Homo sapiens: one gene and its partners. The protein of the gene in region 1 purifies or fractionates together with the protein of each later gene. This does not show direct contact. Each region holds a gene or a part of one and is shown in the gene's direction. Other genes may lie near its edges.

Region 1 (7,030 bases):
GAGGTATAGGACAGTATCCGAGACTTCAGATGCCATCTCACCTCATTCCCTTATTTTCTTGATGAGGATACCAAAGGAGCCCAGAAGGTTCTTAGGCATTGCCAGGGCAGGAGCTCCTGATCATCCAGTCAGGGGTGTGTGTGTGTGTTTTTATTTGCTTTGTTATGTCACTGTACTGTTTGCCTTTCATGGTTGACTGTTTAAGTTCTTACTCTTTTTTTAAAAAAAAGCTTGAAGTTTCAGAAGTCAAGTCGCATCATATACTTAAATGGTATGGAGGATACATTCATTGTCATTTTATACAAGTGAGCATAGTAGAGACTTGGCATTTCTAAAATCCAAGATAAGATTATTCTGGATAAGCCAAAGTTTTAGTTTAAACAAAATATGTAAAATTTGATTACATATGGACTAAGGTTCATTAAGTGACATTAAAACCAGTATGGTTTAAACTGCTTGATTCCAGCCTTTTATGCATTTTTTATTTTGAAGTTGGCAGTTGGAACCACTCTTCAGAAAGCCCTTCCCCTGTGAATGAATTTGAACTGTTTTTTTTCTTGGAAGATATTATAAGTTAAAAAGAAGCATGAGAATCCAGTAGTACATTCTCAAGTGCTTTTACCAGGATTGATCTACTTAAGTTTTAAGGTACTCAGAATTACAGGAAAAATTCAGCATAGCTGCTTTTTTTTTTTTTTTTTTTTTTTTTTTTTGAGGGGGCAGGGGGATTTGCATCTTTTAAAAGGAAGTAGTCAGTGTTTTCTTTTGATTATGTAACGTCCTACAAACCTTTAATGCATTTGAGAATCAACTTGTTGAATAGATTTGAATTTCATTAAGTTTGGTTATAGCAATCATAAAGGTTTAAAAACCCTTTATGTGCAAAAGATATTAAAAAATGCAGATATGTTACAGAGCTGCTCTTTCTTAAATAGTAATTGTGAGAATTCTTGCCCTTTGTGGGAAAAAATTTTGAATTAAAAAATAAAAGCTCCATGAATGATTAATGACCAAGAAATCTTGTGATATTTTTTAAAACAGCTATGAAAGAATACCATTCACTAGTAAAAGTGCTAGAAAACACAAAAATTGCTCCATTACTTAGAGGTTTTTTTTGTTTTGTTGTTGTTGTTGTTTGTTTTAGATTTTCTGATTCAAAAACCAGCAGACTCGAGCAACGATAGCTTAAATGTGGATGACTTTGGTCTAAATCTTTACTGTTATTTACCTCTTTGATTGTTTCGTTATGTATCAATCTGAGGGAAAAAAGTTCTTGTTAGGATATTAGTAAAATTATGGTTAGTGGTGTCACTTTTTCTATTATTGCCAAGAATGGTTGGTTAGGATTGCTATTCTAAGTATTATTTAACGATGCCTCTCATCTTGAAGTTTCCCCTCCCAAGAGATTCTGAACACTAAATGTGATTCTCTTACATTCTTATTCCAAGGAGGAGAACTAATGTAAGAACTTAAAAATCTTTTGCATGTTTTCTTCATAATGCAAAAGAGCAAATACTAAGAAGGGCTAACTTTCTTGAAAATATGACTGGCTTCCTATAGGACAGCGACCATTATTTGCTGTTGCTAGGAATACAAGAAGTGCTTGAAAATTCAGATCACATTAGCATGTTACAGCATTTGGCATTTTTCATACAAGAGGGTTATCTTGCTAACATTAACTGCTTAAGGACAGAAGGCATAACACAAGATTAGAATAACTGCCCAAAGTTGGAAAATGGAATATTAAACGACCCGTACTGCATCTATGTTCCTTATACTGTGCTGGGACCACAAAAGAAGACTAAGTCAACATCTGCCCTCTAGATCCAGGATCTAGCAAGAAAGACAAAGAAGTAGACCTCTAGCAATCTGATACAGTATGAATGACTTGAGGCATGAATAGTTTCATGGAGCACAAAGAAGTAGGTAGGTAGTGGTCCTGTGTGAAGTTTGCAGTGCAGAAGGAGTTTAGCTTTTATAATCTTACAAGCAGGTGACTTCTGAGCTGGCAGAGAAATGCAGTAGGGGGCTTCCCAGGAAAGGAATCAGCATGAGCAACGGCATGAAAATGCATGGCATGCTCAAGGAATGGCAGTATGGTCTGGTTAATTCCGTTCCTTCTTTCAGCCAACACATATGAAACACCTGTTTGCCAGGTGCGGCATTAGGTACTGGGGCTACAAAGATGAATAGATCCTCTTCTCTGCCTTCAAGAACTAAAAGTCTAGAGTGGGAAACAAGTAAACAGATCAATTATAATTAAACTTGGTGAGTGTGTAACCGAGCTGTGAACACATTGCTCTGGGAATGGAGAAAAGGGAGTGATTTGTTCAATCTGATCTTCGGGAGAGGATTAGAGTAATTACCACAGAAGTCTTCTCAGAGGTGGTAATTCAGGAGCTTGGTTTCAAAGCCTGAGTAAGAGTTGGCCAGGTGAAATAGAGAGAAACAGAGCATTTGAGATCAACTCTAAGAATCTGAATTGTATCTATACATTGATAGTAAATCAACATATTTGTATTCAAGGGATGGTTTGGTTTCATTTCTCAGTATTTGAGGCTCATCATTCTGAACATGACTGATTTTATAGGGCTGTAGAAAATAACTGTGATTACTAGAATTTGCTAGCTGTTTAGAATCTGAGTAACCAAGACCTTCCTGTAACATGAAAGCAGCTTTTCAAAGACTATTAAGATGTGTTATAAACCAGAAATGTGGCATTTGTGTGCTGTCAATGAACTTTCCTTCCAGTGCCAGCCTTTAATCATTTAGAGGCAATACTGGTAGATTAAAATTTGCCCATTTCTACTGTATGCCTCGTGTTTTCATGAACAGTCTTTCAGATGTCTGGCTGTATCTGACTTGTAAAGCTACACTATTCTTTGCTTCTTGTTTAGATGAGTCAAAAGGAGGAATGCTGAAATTCAAGCTAGTTTCTACATTTGTATAGATGTGAAGAACAGCATTACTACAACTGTTTATCCTTAGCTACATGGGAATTTTGAGGTTTGGTTTGGGTTTTTTGCTTTGTTTTGTTTTTGAGACGGAGTCTCCCTGTGTTGCCCAGGCTGGAGTGCAGTGGCACGATCTCAGCTCACTGCAGCCTCCACCTCCCAGGTTTAAGTGATTCTCCTGCTTCAGGCCCCCAAGTAGCTAGGATTACAGGCATGTACCACCATGCCTGGCTAATTTTTGTATTTTTAGTAGAGATGGGGTTTTACCATGTTGGCCAGGCCGGTCTCGAACTCCTGGCCTCAAGTGATCTGCCTCCCAAAGTGCTGGTATTACGGAGTGAGCCACCATGCCCAGCCGTTTTGAGGATTTTTAAATGTACTATAAATGAGACATCTCACACTACTCAAAATAGATGTTTCAATATTAGAATTTTGAATACAGTTACCATAGATTTTTTTTACTCAAGAGTCAATTTTGTTTCAGATGTCCAGAGAGACTATTATCTGACAAAAATGCTAAGGATAGACTTTGGTCATTATATTTGTTTTGATGTAGGTAAGAGTAACAGACAATAATGATGCCTTATAACAAGATATATAGATAGTACGTGTGAATGTATGTAGGTGGGGTAGGTAAGTAGATAAGAAGAATTGAACTAATAAAACCAGAAATTATGTGAGAATATGCACTAAGAGGCTGGAGAAACCTAAGCGTCCAGAATTGTTGGCCTCAGTTTCTTATAGGTCAGATTTAGTCCTTCAGGGTTTTGAGGGGTTTTTTTTTTTTTTTTTTTTTGGTTCTCTTGTAATTGGATGATGACTGCTACTAAAAGGCCAAACACTTTAGCAGTTGCCCAATTCCTTCTCCTTTAGCAGTCACTTAAATGGCAGTGATGTTGACTTAAATGACAGCCATTCTGTCTAAAAGGCCATGGTTAATCAAAAGAGTATCAGTCAAATGTGTGTGCCTACTATATGCTCAGTTGCAGACAATCTTCTCCAAGAGCTTCCCTCATTTGAGAAAAATAATATATGTACACAAATTACTTTTTTTAAAAAAAGTGTTCAAGTATATACTCAAAATGATCTTGTCCGATTTTGGAGATTATCAGTGAAAAACCTCTTCTAGAGCAGTGGTTCTCAAAGTGTAGTCCCCAGACCGGCAACGTCTACATCATCTGGGAAATCGTTAGAAAAGCAGATTCATGGGACCTACCCCAGACCTACTGAGTCAGAAACTCTGTTTCTGATCTGTGTTTTAACAAATGTTCTGGGTGATTCTGGCGCATGCTGAAGTTTGAGAACCATTCTTCTAGAGAAACAGAAAAGAACATTAGATGTGTAGTTGGTACTTAAAATTATCAGGAATATGACTACCTGAGCAAAGAATTGGCCAATAACCCACATCAGTGGGGAGCCTTAAGGATAGGGACGGAGGGAGGGTGGGCGATGGGATCACTTATGAAGACAGATGAATAGGGCTGCTAACTGAGGAGGCATCAGGCCGCGGCTGTGGAAGTGAAAAGGAAGCCAGGCCACCAACTGAAGACTCCTTTGTTGTAAAGTTTCAGAGGTTTCTTCAAGTTGAAGAGAAAGACTAACTGACAAATTGAAAAGTCAAGGAGAGCTGATGTAACAAACAGGGATGAAAATACGCATACTAAAAGGTCATCTCAAATACAAGTAGTTATTTAAAGCAAAATTACAGGGGAAAAAAGTCTTAATGGCCAACTTTGACATTCAACTTTGAGTTGAAAGATTTCAGCAGCTTTAAATATAAGCTTTGAGTAAAGTATCCTTCAATAAGGGTTGAGCAGACCAAGATTTTTTTTTTTTTTTTTCCAAGACAAGATCTCAGTTGCCCAGGCTGGAGTGCAGTGGCATCATCACTGTTCACTGCAACCTCCACCTGCCAGGATCAAGTGATCCTCCCACTCTTAGCTTCTCAAGTAGCTGGGACTACAGGTGCACGCTACCATGCCTAGCTAATTTTTTTTCCCCTTTGGTAGAGATGGGGTTTTGCTACGTTGCCCAGGCTGGTCTCGAACTCCTGGGCTCAAGCAGTCTGCCCACCTCAGCCTCCCCAAGTGGTGGGATTACAGGCGTGAGCCCGCTGCACCTGGCTGAGCACACCAAGATTTCTAAATCAATTTGAACACTTGAGATTATCCAAATTTAGCTAAGTTGTATTGGATTCCCTCTCAAGGTTACCTGCCAAGGGAAGGGTTGTGGGAGAAAAATCTGAGCTAAACATCTGAACTATCAGGTAGTAAGATGAATGAATTACTGGCATTTTAACCTAATTGTGAATTTATTTCATGTGTCATATTAGGTTCTCCTTCCTGAGCCGAATCTGTGGATACAGTGTAGTGTGTAACACTTCCTTTAAAGATGTCACTCACCTAAGGAAACTTCAGGGGCTAGCTGGAATTTCCTAATCCAATTCTTAATTAAAAGCTTTATTAAAAGCTACCTTTTGGAAATACTAAGTCCTTGTAAGTCTTCTCATCTAAATTATAACAGAGAAAGCATCTCCACAGGAGCCTAAAAATAGTATTTTGATTTGAGAGGATAATGCTAGTTTTGAAGAAGAAAAAATAACCACATTGAAATTGAACCTAGGTAAATTAGTCTTGTTTTATGTTCTCTCCAGATATTTTGTACCAAAAATGAGTTCATGTGAAAAGTGAGATTAAGTGTCACATCTACTATGTGACAGATGCTATGCTAATAAATTTGCGTATAACCTCGCAATTCTCCACCAATCAGCTAGGAATTATCATCCTGATTGTATGGATGAGAAAACAGACTTTGATAAGTTAAATGACAAAACCATAAGAAACTAGATCTGATTCCAAAGCCTTTATTCTTTTTACCCTAATTCCTCTACAATTTTAGGAAGCTAAAAACATAGGAGTAGGACCTTAACCCACTTGCAGACAACAATTTTCTTGAATATATATTCCGTATAGCCTTTTTATCTCAGTTGACTTGAATGCTCACCCTAAAATCCAAAACTAAGACTAACTGGGTTAAGGAAAATCTTAATACAGAGACAGAAGTAAGTATGCCCTAAAATACCTAGAACAGGTCTAGAGACCCATCAACATGAGAATATATTTAGTTCAGCAACCAAATGAATAGAATCGGCTTCTTGTTTGGGATTTTGAAAGTACTTTTTCATTTGAACTAGTCTTAGGCAATGGTCTCGCCTGACCTTCAGCGAGCCTCAGTGTCTACTGGGTGGCAAGAAATAGATACCGTGAATGGTCACAGCATTATTTACAGCATTTAATCATTCTGGACCTCAAAGAGATTTGAGAACATTTCTCATTTTCCTAGTTATGGTAGGTAATTTTTTTTTTCTCTAACCAACTACTCAAGAGTCATTGAAGAGAAAAATCAGGACCCACTGAAAGTGTGGACACGAACCCTCCCTCTCAAACCTAGGATTCTAAACACTGCTTTTCTTGTTAGTATGGCGTGTTGTTACTATCGTACAAAGCCACCATTTTCCAATGAGTCTTCAAATCATTTGGAAGTGCATTTGGGAAACAAGAAAGAATCCTGTGCTTTTATTGTTTTTTGTTTCTTTATGAAACAAGTGGCAAGCAATACTTCTGAATGTTACATTGCATGACTAGGTCACAGAATTTCCCATTCTGCCTAAGAAGATGCCTTTTTTGAAGTGCTGTGTGTTTGATATAGCGATGGTACACTATTTGTAGAAAGTGGGTTTCAGTATAAACCATAACCACAGAGGTAAATCTATGGTTCAGTATGCGATTTGACGTACAGGAAGTATCTGGGTCTAATGATGAAACTTTTTAACTTTCCAGATGACAGAACAAAGGAAGCAGAAACAAAGAATTGGTCTTCTAGGACATCCTCCTCACATGAATGTCAACCCACAACAACCAGCATAAGCAAATGAAAGAAAGGAATTGTATTTACCTTTTATAATTATTATTAGTGTGGGTATGGCTAATGAGTTCTGATTCACCCACGAAGGTTACATTTATGCTGAATACATTTGTAAATACTCAGTTTTATACTGTATGTATATGATTGCTACT
Region 2 (7,390 bases), on another chromosome or scaffold:
TCCCTATGTCACCAACAATGGCATCACCTGGGAACCTATTAGAAATACAAAATCTCAGGCCCAGCCCAGACCTACAGAACTAGCAACTCTGGGCATCTGTGTTTTAGCAAGCTCTCCAGATGATGCAGATCAACACTAAAGCATGAGAATCTCTGGTGAAGTTAGCAAACATAAAGTTAAATATCAATGCAATCAAAACACAGAGGTGAAGTTACAAAGTCACATCAGTTAGTATAGAACAAAACTAGGATTTGAACCCAGGCTGCCTAATGTCAGAACCTGTATGTACTCTTATGCTATACTATCTTTTTAAGTACTTTAACTTTTGTACATCAGTGACTTATTCTTCCATTAGAGGACAAAAATTGTTGGCAGAATCGAGTTAGGCAGAGGAGAATGGAATGGGGGAGATACCACCATAATAATTATACCACCCCCAATTCTATATACTAGTATGCATTTTATAGGCTGCCAAATAAGTAATATGAAAACAATAAGGACATATTAATGTTGCTAGGTTATCCCAAAGTGTACCGAGCCTATGTGATGACTTTTTTTGTCATAACTTGGTAGCATTGTAGACTTCGTTTTTCAGTCTCTAAAACCTGGAAAAGTGCTATCTTTTCATCGAGATTCACATACAGTTCAAGAAATTAGGCTTCACAGGTGTAATTGGCAGGGCAAATTTTGACTCAGAGGGTGGAGAGAGGAGGCACAGTGGAAATTTTCAAGCATGTCCTGCTGAACTTGTTTGCATAAACTTTGATTTGGAATTTAAGCTTAAGATGTTTCCCCTTGGTAAGATGATACTTAACTCTTTTTGTAACTCTCTCTTTCGAAAAAATTTGGAACATATGGTTCTTGGGCTAGTAGGCTGTCTGATAAAAGGGCAATTTATCTAGCATATGAGGCAATGAGACGTTCCATTGAGTTCTGTATAGGTGACAGAATCATCCCTTTAAGTACTTGAGCTTTTATTACTTTAGCCATTTCTAGTGGAATAATTTCTAAAATGTACTATATACATCTCTCCAATCTCAAACTAAATGCTATGTAGTGAAAACAAACTTTTATCTGATACTCAGGAATATAATTATGATCTTCAAAACTTGAACAGGGAGGCTCTAGAAGTACATAAGGCTGTCATCCCAAAGACGGAATCATTCAGCTCTTAGATCTTGTCTGTCACTGACAGTTGTCTGCATTTTGCTGAGTGTCAGTCACCTTCTAGCTTACTGTGTGAGAGCAAAACCCCCCACACAACCAAACTGACTAGAAGCTGACATAAAATCAAGAAAACTAATCTAAATGAGTCTTTTCTTTGGAGTGTATGTGTACATTTTTGCTTGCATTTGGTTTTAGAATTGTGCTTAGCATTAATCTGGCTTACAGATAGGAGGGGTGATATTATACATTTAAATGTCATCAAACATTGCTCATTGAAACATTTATTCTGCTTTTTATAATGACAGCTAAAAGAGAACAAACCCAGCATTTAAACTCTATTTTGAAACATGTCTTTTAAAGTGTTTCCAAATTTTAGAACTGTACATCTTCATGAACACTGCCCTCCAATTTTGTCACTGATAATCTCTAATCTTATCCAGAAATTCTCATTGATGAGTTTCCAGTGACATTTCAAAAAGCCTATTCTACAATACTATACTCCCTGACCTCTCTACAGCTGATAATGTGGATTACTCGTTTTCTTGACATTTTAGGAGATTCTAAATAGATTCTCTCATGTTGTCAGGTTCTGTCAGCAGGCCTTCAAACTTCTAAGATTTCTCCTGTATATTTTTATCAGCATTTCTCACTTAAATAAATGCAATTACTACCTACCATATTTTGTGGATACCCTTCAAATACAGACGGTCCCCAACTTAGGATGGTTTAACTTAAGACTTTTCAACTTTACAATGATGCAAGATACACATTCAGTAGAAACCATACTCTGAGTGCCCATACAACCATTATATTTTTCATTTTCAGTACAGTGTTCAATAAATTGCATTAGATATTCAACAATTTATTATAAAACACGTTTTGTGGTAGATGATTTTGCCCAATTGTAGGCTAAGGTAAGTGTTCTGAGCACGTTTAAGGTAGACCAAGCTAAGCTACCGTTTGGACGGTTAGGCGTATGAAATGCATTTTCAACTTACGGTATTTTCAACTTATGATGGGTTTACCGGGATGTAACCCCATCGCAAGTTAAGGAGCCTCTGTACACCTCTTTATTTCCATGTCTTCTTTCTCCCTAGATTTTAAACAATGTAGCCCTACTTAGATTCAATTAGCTTCATCTTTGCCTTCTGGCTGCTTCTTCTAGCATAAAGGGAAGCACTACTTGCACAGTCTCAAAAACTTAAATCTTAAGTTCCTCAGCATTCTGTTTACAGATGTACAGATTCTGCCAAATCTATTCCTTCCACAACATCAAAGAATTTAGTAATTCTTTCCTCTCTCTCTCTCCCCTGCCTAGTCAGAAACCTCAGCCACATTATACAACTTACCAGTCTTCCTCTTTTCTGAAATACAGCAGTGAAAGCCATCTCCTTGCCTGGAGGGAGAACTCATCAGAAGGGTAAGCTGCACGCTAACTACATACTACTGCTAACGATCTGAAATCCCCTAAATGGTCTGATATGCAACTGGCTACTCAAGCTCTACCAAGTCTGTTTCAGAGGACAGAAATTGATTCGTGACGTAGCCAAACTATAAAAACCTCAGACTATTTTTATTAATTTTTTTAACAACCAACGTAAGGCAATACTTCTCCAGCCTTTCCAGCAAAGTGCCTTGCACAGGATCGTGACGTCTACACTCCAGGGATCCTGACTCGTAACCCAAGACACCGCTAAAGAGAATTTCTCTCACATTCGTGTTTTACCTTTAAAAGTAATACAAATGCTGTAGTAGCCTTCATAAACACATCCGTAAACATTTAATTAACATTCTCAGCAATGAGTGAAACGGAGGCTCCCGAAGGCAGCGCGGGGTCCGCCCGGGCTCTGCGCATCCCTCCCCCTCCCCGGCCGCGCCGCGGCGAGAACGACTGGAACCCGGGCGTCGGTTCCCCTGCCGCGTCCTGAAGACCCGGCTTCAGGAAGGCGCGGCAGCTGACGTGAGAGGTGAACATGTATTTACTTCAAAGTATGAGGAATCTAAAACCGTTTAAGAATTCAAAATCAGAATCCCACGACTCTGTCCCCCAAGGCCTTCGAGTTCCATTGTTGACGCCCAGACACCTCCAGACTCCTTTAAACGTCTGCCCGACGCCTCTGACAGGCGTCCGCCCCTCGCGCACTCCCACCGCCAGCGGTGCCTTGCATCCGAAACGGGGTCCCCGGGCGCCTCCCGCATTCTCCCCACGCTCCCTCACAGGTCCTTTCAGTTCCCGGGCCGGAGCCGGGCCCGTCCTCCGCGAACGCGGCAACAAAGGCGAGGAGCGGCGGCGGGTCCTGGACGCGGGGCAGTCAGGCTCGGCCACCCCCAGAGCGCAGCGCAGCCCCAGCTGCGAGCAGCCGCACGGATCCCAGAGTCGCCCGCCGCGTTCCCAGCCCAGCCCCGGCCGGGGTCCGCCCGGAACAGCGACGCCTCAGGCCCGGCAAGTCTCTCTCGGACCCTGGGCCGAGCCTCCTCGCCCCGCCCGCCCCAGGCCCCGGATGTGACGGCACCGTCGCCCGCAGCGCTCGCCCCACGGGCCGCGCGTGGAGGGTCCCGGTAGGTGGCGGGGGGAGGGGGTCTTCCCGCCGGCCCGCGGCCCCCACGTACCCAAGTGAGGAGGCTCTCGCACAGCTCCGCCCGCTCCAGCGACTCTACGCTGAACATCTTCCCCGCCGCGGCCAGGCAGCGCCTACCGCCTGGCCAGACACCGCCGCCGCTCTGTCGGGGGATCCGGGGGCCCGCGCAGCTGACTCGGCCTCAGGCCCGCCTGCTCCTCGGATCCGGCCGCCGACTCTCGCCCAGCGCTGGCAGCGGCTCCGCACCGTCACCCCCAGCGCCCCTCCTTCTCCTTTCACTCGGGACCGCGCGCCAGCCGCGCGCGACTTCGGACACGCCCGCCGCCCCGCGTCCCCGCCCCCGGCCGCCCACACCGCTCCTCCCCAGCGCCGCCGCCCTGGCTGGAGCCGAGGCCGAGGAGCCACTGCGCACGCTCGCGCCCCGGCCGACCCGCGCCGCCGCGCCGCCGCCGCCGCCGCCGCCGCCGCCGCTGCCGCCGGGCGCGCCCCCGCCACCAGTTCGCTGCGTGTCGAGGCGAGCACGCGCTCCGCCCTGGAGGCTGCGGCGACGGGTCCTCCTCCGCCGTCCGGTCGCGCCCTCGCGGAAGCTCGGCAGTGCGCGTGCGCCCGCACCCGCACTCCAAATTAGAAAGGGGACGTCTAGTGGGTTGCCCGGGAGGGGTGGCGGGAGCGGTCCTGGAAATAATCTGTCCTCTGTCGCCGGGAACTGGCGAGGTAGTTCCTTCGCGGTGGAGAGGTACGTCCGGCGCGCGGCGGCCACGCCCACCCTATCGGGGCCCGCGGAGCCGCGGACGGCGGGGTCTGGCCTTCTTGGGGTAGCTCTGGCCGCCGAGGCTCTGCGGGGCGGCGGGAGTCGCCGCCTCCTTCCCCCCGGGCCCCTCCCTCGTCTGGAAGCCCCAGAATCGCCCCGCGGCTGTCCGGAGTCGCCGGCGACGGTGGAGGGGCCGACGCGGAGAGCGGCTCTAGGTGGGTTTGGCGGCGGCGAGGACACCGCCGCTCCCTCTAGGGTCGCTCGGAGCGTGACCCTGAGAACTCTCCTTAATGCAGGAGGGGTGTGCGCCCGCTCGCCAATCCGTAAGGACACCGGCCGACCCCGGGCCTGCGTTTCTCAGCGTTCGGAGTTGCCTTCGCTTAATGGCGAGGCGGATCGTTCTGGAGCTTCCACCTCTTTAGAGGCACGAATCTGTCTGCTGGGCTGCCGATAAATTTTTAACAGATATAGCATACGCAGAAAAGTGCATACGACATACACGTTTAAAGAAGAATTAATAAAACACCCAGATAAAAACGAAAAGGGCATTACCGGCACCCCAGGAGTTTCTCACCCATGCCCTGTGCTCCTTTCGGAGCCTGATTGTCTCCTAGCCTGACTAGTGTGATCATTTCCTTACAGCTTTACCATCTATGTGTGCATGCGATGTCGTTTTCCTTTGCCTGTTTTTGAACTTTTGCGGGTGGATCACAGTGTGTTGTTTTGTGGTTTTCAATCAGTATTAAATTGGTGTACTGTGTATGTATAGGTAATTTTAATTGTTGCCTAGTATTCCAGTGTGAATAGAACAGTGAATCCATTCTACTCTGGTTGGGCATTTTGTTCAGACTGAGGCCACTCAGAACATGGCTATAAACATTCTAGTGTACCTGGAACGTAGTGCAAATATGTTGGAATTTCCAGGACATGCACTTTGGAGTCCTTAGAGAATTGTCGATGCGTAGAGTATGCATAACTACCACCCAATGCCAAATTTTTATTTGGAGTGCAACAAAGCTAACTTCCCAAGACACACTTTGCTTTGTAGTTCCTGGAACCCCTTTCCCCCACTTTTTTTCCATTAAGAGTAGGTTTTCTCATTGAGCACTGAAAACTGCCAAGACAGCATTGAGTGGGGTTTTTTGTTGTTGTTGATGGTGGTTTTTGAGAAAGGGTCTCGTTCTGGAGTGCAGTGGCGCAATCTTGGTTCACTGCAACCTCTGCCTCCTGGGCTCAAGTGATCCTCCTACCTCAGCCTCCCAAGTAGCTGGAACCACAGGTGCAGGCCACGATGCTCAGCTAATTTTCTTATTTTTTGTAGAGAGGGGGTCTCGCTATGTTGCCCAGGCTGGTCTCAAATTCCTGGGCTCAAGTGATCCGCCCGCCTTAGCCTCCCAAAAGTGCTGGGATCAAAAGTGTGAGCCACCGAGCCTGGGTCAGCAGTGAGTTTTTAAGGTTGCCTTACAGAGTACCACTTGATAGTTGACCCCTGATCATTTAGCATTTTGTAAGTGTAAAAAAAAAAAAACTTACCTGAAGTATTCTCAATGGTCTTTTTTTCAAACATTCTTCCCTACACCAAGGGCAGAGAAACCTTTAGAAATTACACATACGTGGCCAGGCGCGGTGTCTCGCGCCTGTAATCCCAGCACTTTGGGAGGCCGAGGCGAGCGGATCACGATGTCAAGAGATCCTGGCCAACATGGTGAAACCCCGTCTCTACTAAAAATACAAAAATTAGCCGGGCGTGGTGGCGGGCTCCTGTAGTCCCAGCTACTCGGGAGGCTGAGGCAGGAGAATCGCTTGAACGCGGGAGGCTGAGGTTGCAGTGAGCCGAGATCGCGCCACTGCACTCCATCCTGACGACAGAACGAGAATCTGTCTCAAAAGAAAAAAAAAATTACACATGTGTGTCTCGCCTGTGTTTGGTTCCTGTGTTGGTGCCTCTGGATATTTGTCAAACTAGAGTTCCTACATTCCTTATCAGGTTATTTCTGTCGAATCTCTAGCACTTTTAAGTGACGTATAATCTTGTAGGCAAGTGAATGAAGTCAGTGAGTATATGTCACATTGACTTACTCCTGACTCACATGCAGCTTGTCTTTAGATGGGCAGATAAGATGCTGGCCCTACTGGAGCGACTGTGGTTGTGCCGTCCTGAGCACCCTTCCTCCAGTGGCCCCGGTTTTCAAGGCTTTGACACAATGGACCTAAAGTCTCCTTTTTCAAGCTTGGCTGCATATCCACAGTGCTTTTGTGCATGATGTTACGTTGTTCTGGAGGTTTCATTTTGTAATTCCAGTTACCTTTGATGAAAGAAATTAGTAAAAACTTTTTGGATGTGAGTAATTGCAGAAGCCATGTGGCTGCTGAGTTTCTACGTAAGCCTTGGGGTAAAAAGACACTGAGATTCTCTCCTTTGTTCCAGGAAGTCCCGGAATTTCCTATTTTTCTATTTTCTCTGTGTGTTTTATTTTTTTTCCTTCCCTGAAAGCTTTGGAAATGCCTGAGGAGAGGTGAGTTGAACTTGTCTTAGCTGTCTGGTTACTCCGGTTAGTTGGAGGCTAGTTCTCACCCACAGCTGCTTATCAGATTAAAGAGGGCATGTCCTGTGTGACAGTGCTCCAGATTGCATCCTGTCTTCCCAGGGAACACATACTTAGAGCTGTGATTAAAGAGAGTTTGAGATGCTATGTGGAGCAGCTCTGGGGCAGGCATGGCTAGTTTTTATCATATCAAAACATGGCTAGTTTTATCATGATTCCTTGGCGGTTGTTAATAATATTAACCAAACACTGTAGCTTCCATTTACTGAGAGCCTATATGATGTGCCAAGCAGTATGCTAAATGCCTTACCTTCATTATCTCATTATAAACTTCACAAGGCAAAGCA
Region 3 (5,319 bases), on another chromosome or scaffold:
GGGCAGAACTGAGGATGCCTTTGCTGTGTGGTGCAGGTACTTTCCTTCTCCTTGGACATGCCTTGATAGAAGTTTAGTTTAATTTTGTGTTAAACATGGAAACTTTTAACTTTTGCACCTATGCTCCAAGATCTGAGATGACTGTCTCTTACAGAAATGTAACAATGAGACCACAAAAAGTAGGTAGGGGCATAAATATAGGAAAATTGAAGGGGCACCACTCCCCTCCTTCTCTAATATGGTTCAACATAAGTCTTCCATACTTTTTTTTTTTTTAACAGCTGAAGCTAACCCCTGAATATCTGCAGCTGATGAAGTACAAGGCCATTGCTTCCAACAGCAAGATTTACTTTGGCAAAGACATTCCTAACATGTTCATGGACTCTGCGGGCAGTGTGAGCAAGCAGTTTGAGGGGCTAGCTGACAAGCTAAGCTTTGGCTTAGAAGATGAACCCTTGGAGACGGCCACTAAGGAGAATTGAAAAAAACTTGATATGACTGCAAATGATACTTAAGCAGATCTTTATTTTTTAAGATGAATCAGAATGTTCCTCCCTCCCCGACTACCTTCTCTGACTGTCTTCCAGTTACTGTGGTGAAAAAGAAGAAATGAACTTAAATCCACTCCCTTTCTAGGGAAAGGAGGGTGGGGACTGATGATGGGGGGTTTTATTTCAGGTAAGCAGTTTATATGACTTCCAATAAGATTTGTAAATCATGGGCTTGACCTTTGACCTCTAGACACTAATTTTATCCTTTGAGGCTGGCTTAATTAGGGATGCTGTCATTAAGGAGAGGGAGAAATGTAGAGTGTTACCTCCAACTCATTTGATTTCCCTTACTTGGGAAAATGCAGTCCAGTGTTCTCACCTCTGCCTCCAAGGTAGGAGATGTCTGTGGGTGAGGCTCAGCAACTGAGCAAATATGTGCCTGTGAGTTTGCCAGTAGAGCTGTGAAGAAACAGCTGCAGAGAACATTTGACCTTCCTGGCATTCTTGTCTGCATGTGTGTGAGTTATTTTAGAGGTGTGCTTTCTTGAGCCCTCATAAGGAAGTACTGGTGCTAGGTTTTGCAAGATTTTGTATACACTTTGCTCCTTGCCCTAGGGCTCAGAGTGGTGGTTTCTGACTACATTTCTAGAGTCAGAGCTTGATCACCACAACTCAATTATTTCGGCATCTTTTCACCTATGCTGTGATTTGTTTTTTTTTTTTCTTCTCAAAAATTCTGTTCATTGGTTCCACTCAGCATCAAGAAGACAGGGACAAACAACTCAAGTGTCTTAACAGCTGCTGGAGTGGGATCCTTGTTATCTCTTAGCCACTGCAGGACCTGCCTGACAGGTTATGTGTGCACCTCGAGATGAAGTGTCTTTCTATTATTGTAGAGATTCTGTAGTGAAGAGGTCTGACACCATGTGTGGAGGAGGAGGAACGATCAGTCAAGAGATGTCCTGGTCTTAATGCCTGTGGCTTGTGCTGGGAGTGGGTCTGACTTAGTGATAAAAGGACTCTATTCACTAAGTAGCCTGTGTTTTTAAATCCAGGGCTGCAGGCAGCAACGCAAGTCAGGCTGAACATTCAGTCTCCAGAGACAGCTGTGTGGAGCAAATCAGAGTTCATGCCCAAGTCCCCAGGTTGGAATGGCTGTGCCAAAATCCATTCAAAGGGTTTTCTTTTTCATTACTAGGTCAGAACATTTTGAGTCACCTTGGGAGATTCAGGATGGGGAGAGCAAATTTGAACAAAAGGTTTTTCTTATATCCTGAGATTGAGGGGTAGGGGGTGTCCAACCTGTATAGCCCATGGGTTGTGTCTAGAATTAAGTGGAGGGCAGCTATCTGGAGTTAACTTGCAAGCATATTGGTGCCCTCCATGACCACCTCTGGCTTAGGACTTGGCCCTGTTATGAGCTGACCCCCACCCCCCACCCCCCACCCCCCCCCCCCGCCAACTCCTATACCCATCTTCCCTAGGTGAATCTGTGAATGGTCCTTTCTGGCAGCAATCCCTGCCTTCTTTTTGGGCCCATGCCCAGACTTCTGGTTTAAGGAATGGTCCCAGAGCTTGGGCCAGCTTGCTCAGAAGTTTTGGGAGCATTGAGCCTGCCTAGAAAGATACAGTGTTAGCTCCCCTTACTTCAAAGTTGCCCTTCTCTGTTCTGACTCCTGGGACTTCTGGTCCTGGGCACACTTTTTGCAGGCAACAAAATGTGCCTGGGAGTGATGGATTTTAATGTGCTCCAGAGTCCTTTCAGAAGGTGGTCATTTCCCTTGGCCGGGCGCGGTGGCTCACACCTGTAATCCCAGCACTTTGGGAGGCCAAGGCAGGCGGATCACCTGAGGTTAGGAGTTCGAGACCACCCTGGCCAACATGCGAAACCCCATCTCTACGAAAAATAGAAATATTAGCCGGGCATGGTGTCAGGCACCTGTAATCCCAGCTACTTGGGAGGCTGAGGCAGGAGAATTGCTTGAACTCGGGAGGCAGAGGTTGCAGTGAGCCAAGATCATGCCATCCCACTCTAGCTTGGGCAATAGAGCAAGGCTCCGTCTCAAGAAAAGAAGGTCATTTCCCAAGACTAGCATAGGGAGTATCCATTTAAAATACATTCATCTTCCTCCCATTTCCGTGCTATTAATCACTTGTTAGAGCAACATGACATGCCCAGCATCCCACTTCCCGAAAATGTCTACTCCTTCTACTCTGAGCTCTTGTTGCCTAGACCTCAGAAAACACCAATTCACCACAGTAGAACCGGGAGCAGGGATAGCTCAGCTTCTCTGAATAGCACACTTTGCTCAGGTCTTAACTTGAGGGCCTCTCCGGTACTAACATCCTGCGATAGCTTGTCCCATGAGCACAGAAGAGCCTCAGTAGAGTCAAGTCCTGCTGCAGCTGCCCCACCCCAAGTTTCTATCATTTCCTCTTTAAACAAAAAATATGTTATCCTACACATTAGTGTCAATCCAATGGTTGTCTCTTATCTGTCTAAATAGCAAAATCATGAAAATCAGCTGTTTTATTTGCATAGGACAACTAACCTGTCTGTGTAACTTTGTTTTTATTTTAACTCTTACTAGAAAATCTAATCTTAAAACATTTGAATTCTAAACATGTAAAATGTGACAGCCTGCAATTTTGTAGACAGTGAAGTAATGGCTGCTATTTATAAATGGAACATCTATCAAAATAAGTAACTGTTTATAAAATTCAGTTTTTGTAGGGTTTTCCAAGGAAAAATCACCTTGGTTGAATGTTTCTCACTCATTAAACTTTGCAGAAGTGATTCATATTCAGTACTGTTTTTAATCACTTTTTAAAATATAAGGACCGAATGCAAGGAAACCAAAGTTTATTAATAATTTTTATATAACTAAAATAAAATAGATGTGGAGGGATCTGTGATCATATAAAAAGGGAGGGTTACTGAAAGAATTTTAGCAATATATTGATTCAGGAAAAGGAGCTGTTTTATAAATGATCATTCACTGTTCCTATGGTTCTATGTATCTTTCAAACCGATACCTTTACTATTTAAAGAGCGTAAATAGTGAAAGTAAGATGGTCATACTTACTGACTTTATCTATTTAAGTTTGATGGAGATAAACTATATCTTGGCTAGTGGCTACTGTGTCTGTGAATGTAACCAGTACTTCTTTAAGCTCTATTCAGTAGGGTTCCAGCCACTGCTTTTTTGTTGTTTCTAGCCACTGTTTTTTTTTTCTTGTTTCCTTATAAAACAGGTAATAACCAATCATTTTGTGTTTGTATTTCCATTCCTTTTTATTTCTGCCTTTGTGTAGACTGATGATTAAGTAGGCAAACTACTTCTACTTTCAAAGAGCCCCAAGGGCTTAATGACCCCATTTGTAACTGAGAAATGATTCTTGTTTTAGTAATCATTCTATAAATGATACTGCTGGATTGATTGCCGTGGGTTGATAGCTGGAGGAATTGTTTTGGACAATACTAACATGTGAATTTATGTCTTAGTTTTATTTGCAGTCTTGCTAAGTAAAATGAGTCTTTGTATCTACTTTTTTATTAAAGTGAAATTTAGCAATAGTTAATATTAGGTGACATAAATAAAACATCCCAGACTAGTGAGTTAAGTACAAGATCTCTCTAAAAATAAACAGATGAAAATCTATCCCCATTATCGATACAGAATTTGTGAACGTGGCATAATTCTTGGTAGGTGCTATAGAGATTTATCATTTTAAACAGTTCACACACCACTGCAATTCTGCTCCAAAGGACAAAGATATTTTCAAGTGAACCAAAATTCATTTTGATATCAGTTCAGTGGACGAACTCCCAGTCTTTACTCTGGAAAGCTGCCCAGCTTAGGGTTGCCAGATAAAACATAAGATACCTAGTTAAATATGAATTTCAACAATGTACAATTTTTAGTCTAAGTACTATGTGTCCTAAACACTGCATGAGACATACTCATACCAAAGTATTTGTTGCTTATGTGTAATTCATATTTAACTGGGTATCCTGTATTTTTACTTGTTAAGTCCGGCAACCCTAGCCCAGGCTTTCTCAGGTTTTTTTTAACAGGGATCCCAAGCTTTTTCTATTGGTTTGAGAGCCTGCTACACAAATAATATGATCTTAACAATTGAATAGTTATGTTAAGAGTGTAGTTACTGCAGTTAGACTGCCAAAGTTCAAATCACTGCTCTACTACTTCTTAGGTGTGTGGTCTTGAATAAGTTTTTTGACCTCTCTAAGCCTCAGTTTCTTCATTAATAAAATGAGTTGCATGGCTTATATGAAATAATGCATACGAAGGGCTTTCACACTGTACCTTGCATGTATGTATTCAAAAACTTCAATCTGGAGAAACGGGCTAAAAAACATACAGCTATTAAATGGGAGCCACTAAGTAGAAAGCCAAACACGTGAAAAAAAATGGAATAAGATTACAAATGGGATAGCACATAGAAGAAGGGAATGACATTGCAATGCAGCAAACACAGTATTGAGGATACATACCTCTACAAAAATGTTGTGTAGAAAATAACCTGGTTTAAAGAAAGAAAAGAAAAGAAAAGAAGCCAGGCACGGTGGTTCACACCTGTAATCCTAGCACTTTGGGAGGCTGAGGTGGGTGGATCACCTGAGGTCGGGAGTTCAAGACCAGCCTGACCAACATAGAGAAACCCCATCTCGACTAAAAATAGAAAATTAACCGGGCATGGTGGTGCATGCCTGAAATCCCAGCTACTTGGGAGGCTAAGGCAGGAGAATCACTTGAACCTGGGAGGTAGAGGATGCAGTGAGCCAAAATCACGCCACTGCACTCCA
Region 4 (7,030 bases), on another chromosome or scaffold:
ACACACAAGAATATTATTCATCCTTAAAAAAAGAAGGAAATCTCACCTTTTGCAACAATGTGGGTGAGCCTGCAGGACACTATGCTAAGTGAAATAAGCCAGGCACAGAAAGACAATACTGCATGATCTCACTTATATGTAGAATCTTAAAAGGTCAAACTTGCAGAAACAGAGAGTAGAATGGTGGTTGCCAGTGACTGGGGGTGGGAGAAATGGGGAGATGTTGGTCAAAGAATTCAACTTACTATTTTGGTTATGAGGTGAATACGTTCTGGGGATCTAACGTACAGCACGGTGACTGTAGTTAATAATGTATTGTATACTTGGAATTTGCTAAGTATTGTCCACCACACAAAAAGGTAACTATGTGAGTTGGTGGATATATTAGTTAGCCTGACTGTGGTAATCATTTCACATCAAAACATCACACTGTATGCCGTGAATATGTCACATTGTATCAAAACATTGTATCAAGGTAATGAAAACATCGCATTGTGTGCCTTGAATATATACAATGTTTATTTGTCAACTATACCTCAATAAAGCTGGGGGAATAAAGAGTAAACTGCATTTGTCCCCTTATCAAGATGGCTCTGAGCATCATGATGTGAGAATAAATGCTCTGGCTCCTGTCCCTGGAAGTCCCACCAGCCCAAGCCTAACTCTGTGTTTTTGTTCTAAACCGGCAGGGTCCTCCTGCCGCAGGAGTATCTTGCAGTCCAACTCCCACGATTGTCCTGACTGGGGATGCCACTTCACCAGAAGGAGAAACCGACAAAAACCTGGCCAACAGGTACAGGTGCCTGATCCTTGCATTGTGACAAACAATATTTCCTAGAACATGAGGATCAGACAGCTATATTTTTAAATAAATCTTTTCTTTTTTCTTGTATCATTTTATTGACTAAACTATAATCAAGCAGTTTTTCAAAATACAAGATAGAAATAGGAATTTTTCCATTATCTTCCTCCTAAAATGATTTTTCCTCTCCTGGATGTGGTCCTTTTGGCTCTGCGACGGCTCCAGCCCATTTGCAGCCTCCTCCCCCAGCAGGGCTAGTGGAGGTTAAAACATTTAATGCCCAGGGGCCCCAGAAGGACTTGTTCCCCCATGGAAAGGGCTAGCCTTTAAGAAAAGCATAAATCACCGCAGGAGAGTTTCCCATAATAACTGTCCAGCTATTTGCAGCCAAACATGAAAGGTGCAGGTGTTTGAATGTAGAATCCTGCCCCTGGCCAAAACGTGTGAAATATGATCTCTTGGCAGGGACATGGGCTCACAGGTAGAGGAATGTCTCCGCCTTGGTTTCACAGAGCACTAGCCCACGAACTGGGCTCGCTGAAATGAGACTGTCTAATTTTCAAAAAGTTAAAAAGATAATTCTCGGCCGGGCGCAGTGGCTCATGCCTGTAATCCTAGCACTTTGGGAGGCCAAGGCGGGTGAATCATGAGGTCAGGAGATCGAGACCATCCTGGCTAACACAGTGAAACCACGTCTCTACTACAAATACAGAAAAATTAGCCGGGTGTGGTGGCGGGCGCCTGTAGTCCCAGCTACTCGGGAGGCTGAGGCAGGAGAATGGCGTGAACCCGGGAGGCGGAGCTTGCAGTGAGCCCAGATCGCGCCACTGCACTCCAGCCTGGGCGACAGTGCGAGACTCCGTCTCAAAAAAAAAAAAAAAAAGAAAGAAAGAAAAAGAAAAGGAAAAAGATAATTCTCATATAAATATACTGAGCATATGTCAAAGATTTACTTACCTCATTAATACAAGAAGCATCTGGATAACAAAGCCGGTTCAAAGGAGGATACAAGCAATGGATATACATATATCATCAGTGGGGAGGAAAGTGCTGGAATAAAACTGCTAAGTTAGATATAAAATAGGTGAATGTTCTACAGGGCAATGAAACCATATTTTTGTCTTTTTTCCCAAACAGAAATCATCTGCGTCTTTGTCAGACAACAATGATTTACATTTTATGAGGCTTCTACAAGTTAGATGTTAGCTCAGAGTCTGGGACCTAATGAGTAGGAAATAGTAAGTCAAAGTCACATCCTCTTAGGGCAGTGGTTGGAAAACTTTAGCACGCGTCAGAATCACCTGGAGAGCTGTAAAATCATAGCTGGCTGGGCCCACCTCCAGAATTTCTGATCTGAGTTGGGGCCTGAGAATTTGCATTTCTAAGACGTTCCCAAGTTGAGAGTCAGAGAAACCCTCGAGAAGCTTGTAAGATGATGTTCTAGGATGACTTTGAAAGAATATACAGGCATCTGGCTGGGCACAGTGGCTCATACCTGTAATCCCAGCACTTTGGGAGGCCAAGGCGGGCAGATCACCTGAGGTCAGGAGTTCAAGACCAGCCTGGCTGACATGGTGAAACCCCATCTCCACTAAAAATACAAAAATTAGCTGGGTGTGGTGGCACATGCCTGTAGTCTCAGATACTTGGGAGGCTGAGGCAGGAGAATTGCTTGAACCTGGGAGGCAGAGGCTGCAGTGAGCTGAGATTGCGCCACTGCACTCCAGCCTGGGTGACAGAGTAAAACTGAGTCAAAAAAAAAAAAAAAGAAAGAAAGAAGGAAAGAAGGAAACAAAGAAAGAAAGAAAGAAAAAGAAAAAGAATATACAGGCATCTTTTCACCTATTTTCAAGTTGTGGATTGATTTTCTGAACAAGATGACTGTTCTGTCTTTCAGAGTTCACAGTCCCCACAAGAGGCTTTCTCACCGACACTTGAAGGTGTCCACTGCCTCCCTGACATCTGTGGGTAAGGACCAGGGCAATCTAAGGCATGTTGAGTAGAAAGACAGGTCTGGCAGCGTGGCTGGGCTTGACTCCTTCCTCTCTCCTGCTCTTTAAGGCGCTCCCTCCCGATAAGTCCAACAGGACAGGGTAGATCAGCCCCTCCGTGTCTGGGTCTAGGAGAAGCATATTTAATTCAGTTTTCATTGCTCAAAAGACAAGACCAGGGCATGAAGAGGAAGATGCAGAAGTCAAAGAAAGAAAGAACAGCTGAGTGAAACTCATTTCTGGGGTTTAGGGGGCAGAGTCCTCCAGCCTCTGCTAAAGAGGCCCACATCCAGGTTGGAGTAGGTGCCTGAGTGTAAGGCCGGCTGCCCTGGTCATCTGCTCATCCCCAGATGGTGGCTCACGATCTGCCCTGGGCTGTTGGAACATAGATCTCATATAGAGTTGGTCCCTGCCTTCATGCTGCTCATAGACTATGAAGAGACTGAGAAATGAACAGATAATTGGGACACTGTATGATAAGAGACTGCACAGAAGAGCTAGGCCAGCCAAGGCAAGAAGGGGACCGAGTCTCTCTGAGGAGAGGAAGTTTTAGGAAGGTATTCCAGAGGAGGTGGCATTTGAGTTGTGCCTTAGAGAGCTGGACAGATAGGCGAGGGAGGAAAGGCATTCCAGGGGGAATAGGAAACACACTGAAAGAGCAGGAACCTCCCTGGAGCATGTTGCTGGCAACTGAAACTCTGCCATGTGTACCAATTGGGACTTTTTCAAATGATAGAAACCCAACTCAAACTACCTCACACCAAAAAAAAATTTACAAAAGCCAGGGCTTGTGATTTCAGGTAGTGCTGGATCCAGGTGCTCAAAGTGGGTTATTAGCAATTGTCCCATTCCATCTCTTGAACCTTTTTTCTTGTGTGTTAGCTTTCTTCTTGGCAGACTCTTCAACACATGGTAGCCAATAGCTACCAGCAACTCCAAGCTTACGCCCCATCAGTGGAGAGTTCTTCTTCCCCATATACTCCACACCAGGATTGCCCCTCAATGGCTTCACATGGCCATCCCCGAGCCAATCCCTGTGGCCAAGGGGATTCTGTTCATTGATTGGCCAAGACTAGTCCACATTCCCACTCTTGGCACAGGGGAGGGGGGTTAGCTAATGGGGAATCAGAGAGGTTTTTACCAAGTGAAAACCAAGGATCTGCTGCCCAAAGACGAATGGAACCCGATGGAGGTGAAATGGGAGCTGTTCACTGCAGACACAGCTGAAGTGGAGGGACTTGGGAGGAGTATGTGGGGGCCAGCAAGACTGGCTGAGCCCAGTTTAGGGTTTGGATACCACACTGAGGAGCATGAGAAATCCCCATGAGATGAGGTGGAGAATGGCATGGCCAGATGTGGCTCTGATAGCCACTCTGATAGGCAGTGGGGGATGGGATGGAGGAGCTCGCCTGAGGGCAGGGACCTCTTAGGTAGAAGACATAATTGTCCAGGAAAGAGCTAACAAGTACGAGCGAGGCTGAGGCAGGAGAATCACTTGAACCCAGGAGGCAGAGGTTGCAGTGAGCCGAGATTGTGCCACTGCACTCCAGCCTGGGCCACAGAGTGAGACTCTGTCTCAAAAAAAGAAAAAAAAAAAAAAGAGCTAATGAGCAAGAATGGAGATGAGGAACAGGCTCCAGAGATGTTTATAGGTAAATGCAGGGAGGACTTGATCAACTGATTGGATGTTGGGGGAGGGAGGAAGAGGGAGAAGTGGGGAGTGACTCCTGTGATCCTGAGCAGCCAGGTGAGAGGTGGTGCCGTTCACCCACCTCATCCAGAGGGGCAGTTTTGGAGAAAAATGGGGTGAACAATGTGACTGGAGGGAAGGTGGCCACGGGGTTGTGGCCGTGGCCAATGATCTTTGGTCTCCTTCTTTTATTCACAAACCTTAAGCGCATTAGCTTGTGAAAGAAACAGGCCAGAAGCAAGAATGCACTGGGGGCGCAGATGGTGCCGGAGGTAAGGCTCCTGGGTGGCCTTCCCTTCCTGACAGAGTTTAGGAAAATTCTGGGAACCTGAGATGGCTCCAGGACCATTTGTGACGGAGGACCACAGGCCATAAGCCATAGGGGCCAGGCCTGCAGAGGAAGCCACTGTCTGTCCCCATGCAACCCTCTTGATGGCACTGGGCTGAGGTTTGGCTGGCTGGGTCAGCTGTGGGCAGAGTCCCTGGGATGAGGCATGGTATGGCATGACCTCAGCCTGGGGCCACGGATGCAGTGGCTCTCACCCCAGCTCATCCTCCTTCTGCAGACCCCGCGGGGCACATCATTGACCTGGTGAATGACCAGCTGCCAGACATCAGCATCTCAGAGGAGGACAAGAAGAAAAACCTGGCGCTGCTGGAAGAAGCCAAGTTGGTGAGTGAGCGATTCCTGACCCGCCGTGGGAGGAAGTCCAGGAGCAGCCCCGGAGACTCCCCATCAGGTAGGGTGGCAGGATGTACAGGTGGCTGCCCTGAGCCCCTCTAGGGTCGGGAGGGAAGGGCCTGGCACCAGCTGCAGTGGGCGCCTCACCTCCGAGGAGGTCGCCTTGGACTCACCTGCTCTCCTCAGCAGAGGTCAGGATTCTGTCCTGGGCTCCCTTCCCTTGATCTCTGTGGGTGCTGGGAAGGATCCTAGGCCCTCTGGGGAAGAGGAGATGGTCTTTGGGGAATTTCTGGGTTAGAGGGAAGGTTTTCCTGGGCCCAGAAATCCTCCTGCTTCCTCTATGCTAGAGTCACTTTTCTTCCTGAGCAAAAAGTTGGGCAAGTGTGTAAGTGTACTTAGGAGGACAAGGGGAGCTTTTGAAGTCAGGGCCACCCTGGGAAGTCGAGAAGGAGCAGCCTCTGGAGCTGTACCTGCCAACCAACGCCAGGCCTCAGTTTCTGGACAGTGCCTTGAGGTCAGGCCAGGCAGGCTGAGAAGTGTGACTCTATCCTCGAACCCCCAAATGGCCTGAGGGCACCCATCTCTTGAGCAGCAGCAGGGAGGGGTTGGGCTGTAACAGGAGCATCATATTGCAGTCCAGCATCAGCCCCTGAGCCCAGCAAGGCAGACCCAGTTCCCAGGGCCTGGGAATACCTAAAAGGATGCCTTTGCCAGGTTGAAGTCCTAAACCTTCATGAATGCCAGCCAATTTGTGTCTGTCTTCACAGCTGTTTCCCCGAACCTCAGCCCCAGCGCTTCTCCTACATCCTCTCGGAGCAACTCACTTACAGTCCCCACCCCGCCAGGTGAGGCCCAGCTGCCCGGGGACTTCCTGCCCTGCCTCTCGCTCTGGGTGGCAGCTCAGCCTGGACAGATCAGCATGCCTCCCAGCCTGCAGGCTTCCCCTTCAAGAACTCTGATGGCCCCTTCACACCCAGAGCAAGACCCCTCTCCAGGGGGGGCATTTGCTGGGCCACCCAGAGGAGGCAGATAGACTTTCTGTTAGCATCTTGGGCTTGTGTCGGGAGGCAGGTGTACCCCAGGGTCAGGAAGGCTGGGTGGGAAAGGGGACTAGGACAGCCTCTCTGGCTCAGGGAGGCTCAGAGAAGCCCTCAAGAGCTTATACAGAAAGGCCTCTTTGGGGTCTGACTTCTTCCCTTTCATTAGGCTGTACCCAGAGTCACACCCTCCAGCCAACAAGGAAAGGGGGAGGGTGCCAGGAAGGGCAACCGGCCCTCATCAGTGCGGCAGGGCACGCTCAGGTCGGGGCCAGGCAGCCTGGGCCCAAATCTCAGTGCTGACATTTCCTGGCCATGAGACTTTGATTTCCCTGTGCCTCAGTTTCCTCCTGTGGTCTCTGTGAACATTCTGTGAGGGCCCACCTGAGAACCTGGCACACGGGAGGTAGTCAGCAAATCTTCCAGGCCTGAGATTGCAAAGGGAGGATAGCCCGGGGAGGGAGATGTGGCTGAAAGCACAGCTGAGGGCCTGGGCTGCTGGGCCTCACTCACTAGTGTCTGGACCCTTCCAGGTTTGGATGTGTGCAGTGGCCCGCCATCCCCTCTGCCTGGAGCACCACCACAGGTGACAGGACCCCCCACCTGCTGTGCTGTTTCTATGCCAATGGGTCTCTCCCCTTACCCCGAACACCAGGAGGCCCTTCGTGACCCACTGGAGATGAGGGTGCTGGGTGGAGGGCATGAACACCACTGCTAGGGGGCCTCCTTGGGGATATTTCAAGAGGAAACACGGTCTCTTCCCATTGCTGACTGACTCCTGTTCACCTTCTCCAGCAGAAGGGGGATGAGGCCGACGTCTCTTCACCT

The links.
Region 2: the proteins of ITPR1 (region 1) and RNF170 purify together in Homo sapiens (affinity purification with western blotting, with the first as the bait; 2 studies listed by BioGRID). This does not show direct contact.
Region 3: the proteins of ITPR1 (region 1) and ERLIN2 purify together in Homo sapiens (affinity purification with western blotting, with the first as the bait; 4 studies listed by BioGRID). This does not show direct contact.
Region 4: the proteins of ITPR1 (region 1) and IRAG1 purify together in Homo sapiens (affinity purification with western blotting; 2 studies listed by BioGRID and IntAct, with this or other methods). This does not show direct contact.

Annotation. Positions count from the first base shown.
Region 1 is NC_000003.12:4,839,346-4,846,375, forward strand, and holds part of ITPR1 (inositol 1,4,5-trisphosphate-gated calcium channel ITPR1), read left to right. Parts: intron 1-6,793; coding exon 6,794-6,880; 3' UTR 6,881-7,030. UniProt on the Homo sapiens protein: Inositol 1,4,5-trisphosphate-gated calcium channel that, upon inositol 1,4,5-trisphosphate binding, mediates calcium release from the endoplasmic reticulum (ER).
Region 2 is NC_000008.11:42,893,576-42,900,965, reverse strand, and holds the start of RNF170 (E3 ubiquitin-protein ligase RNF170), read left to right. Parts: upstream 1-4,360; 5' UTR 4,361-4,482; exon of another isoform or gene 4,483-4,769; intron 4,770-5,858; exon of another isoform or gene 5,859-6,999; coding exon of another isoform or gene 7,000-7,013; intron 7,014-7,390. Other genes in the region: HOOK3 (protein Hook homolog 3), read right to left, coding at 3,778-3,834. UniProt on the Homo sapiens protein: E3 ubiquitin-protein ligase that plays an essential role in stimulus-induced inositol 1,4,5-trisphosphate receptor type 1 (ITPR1) ubiquitination and degradation via the endoplasmic reticulum-associated degradation (ERAD) pathway.
Region 3 is NC_000008.11:37,753,634-37,758,952, forward strand, and holds the end of ERLIN2 (erlin-2), read left to right. Parts: intron 1-281; coding exon 282-482; 3' UTR 483-4,789; downstream 4,790-5,319. UniProt on the Homo sapiens protein: Component of the ERLIN1/ERLIN2 complex which mediates the endoplasmic reticulum-associated degradation (ERAD) of inositol 1,4,5-trisphosphate receptors (IP3Rs) such as ITPR1.
Region 4 is NC_000011.10:10,627,731-10,634,760, reverse strand, and holds part of IRAG1 (inositol 1,4,5-triphosphate receptor associated 1), read left to right. Parts: intron 1-689; coding exon 690-793; intron 794-2,699; coding exon 2,700-2,770; intron 2,771-5,049; coding exon 5,050-5,223; intron 5,224-5,932; coding exon 5,933-6,010; intron 6,011-6,735; coding exon 6,736-6,788; intron 6,789-6,997; coding exon of another isoform or gene 6,998-7,000; coding exon 7,001-7,030.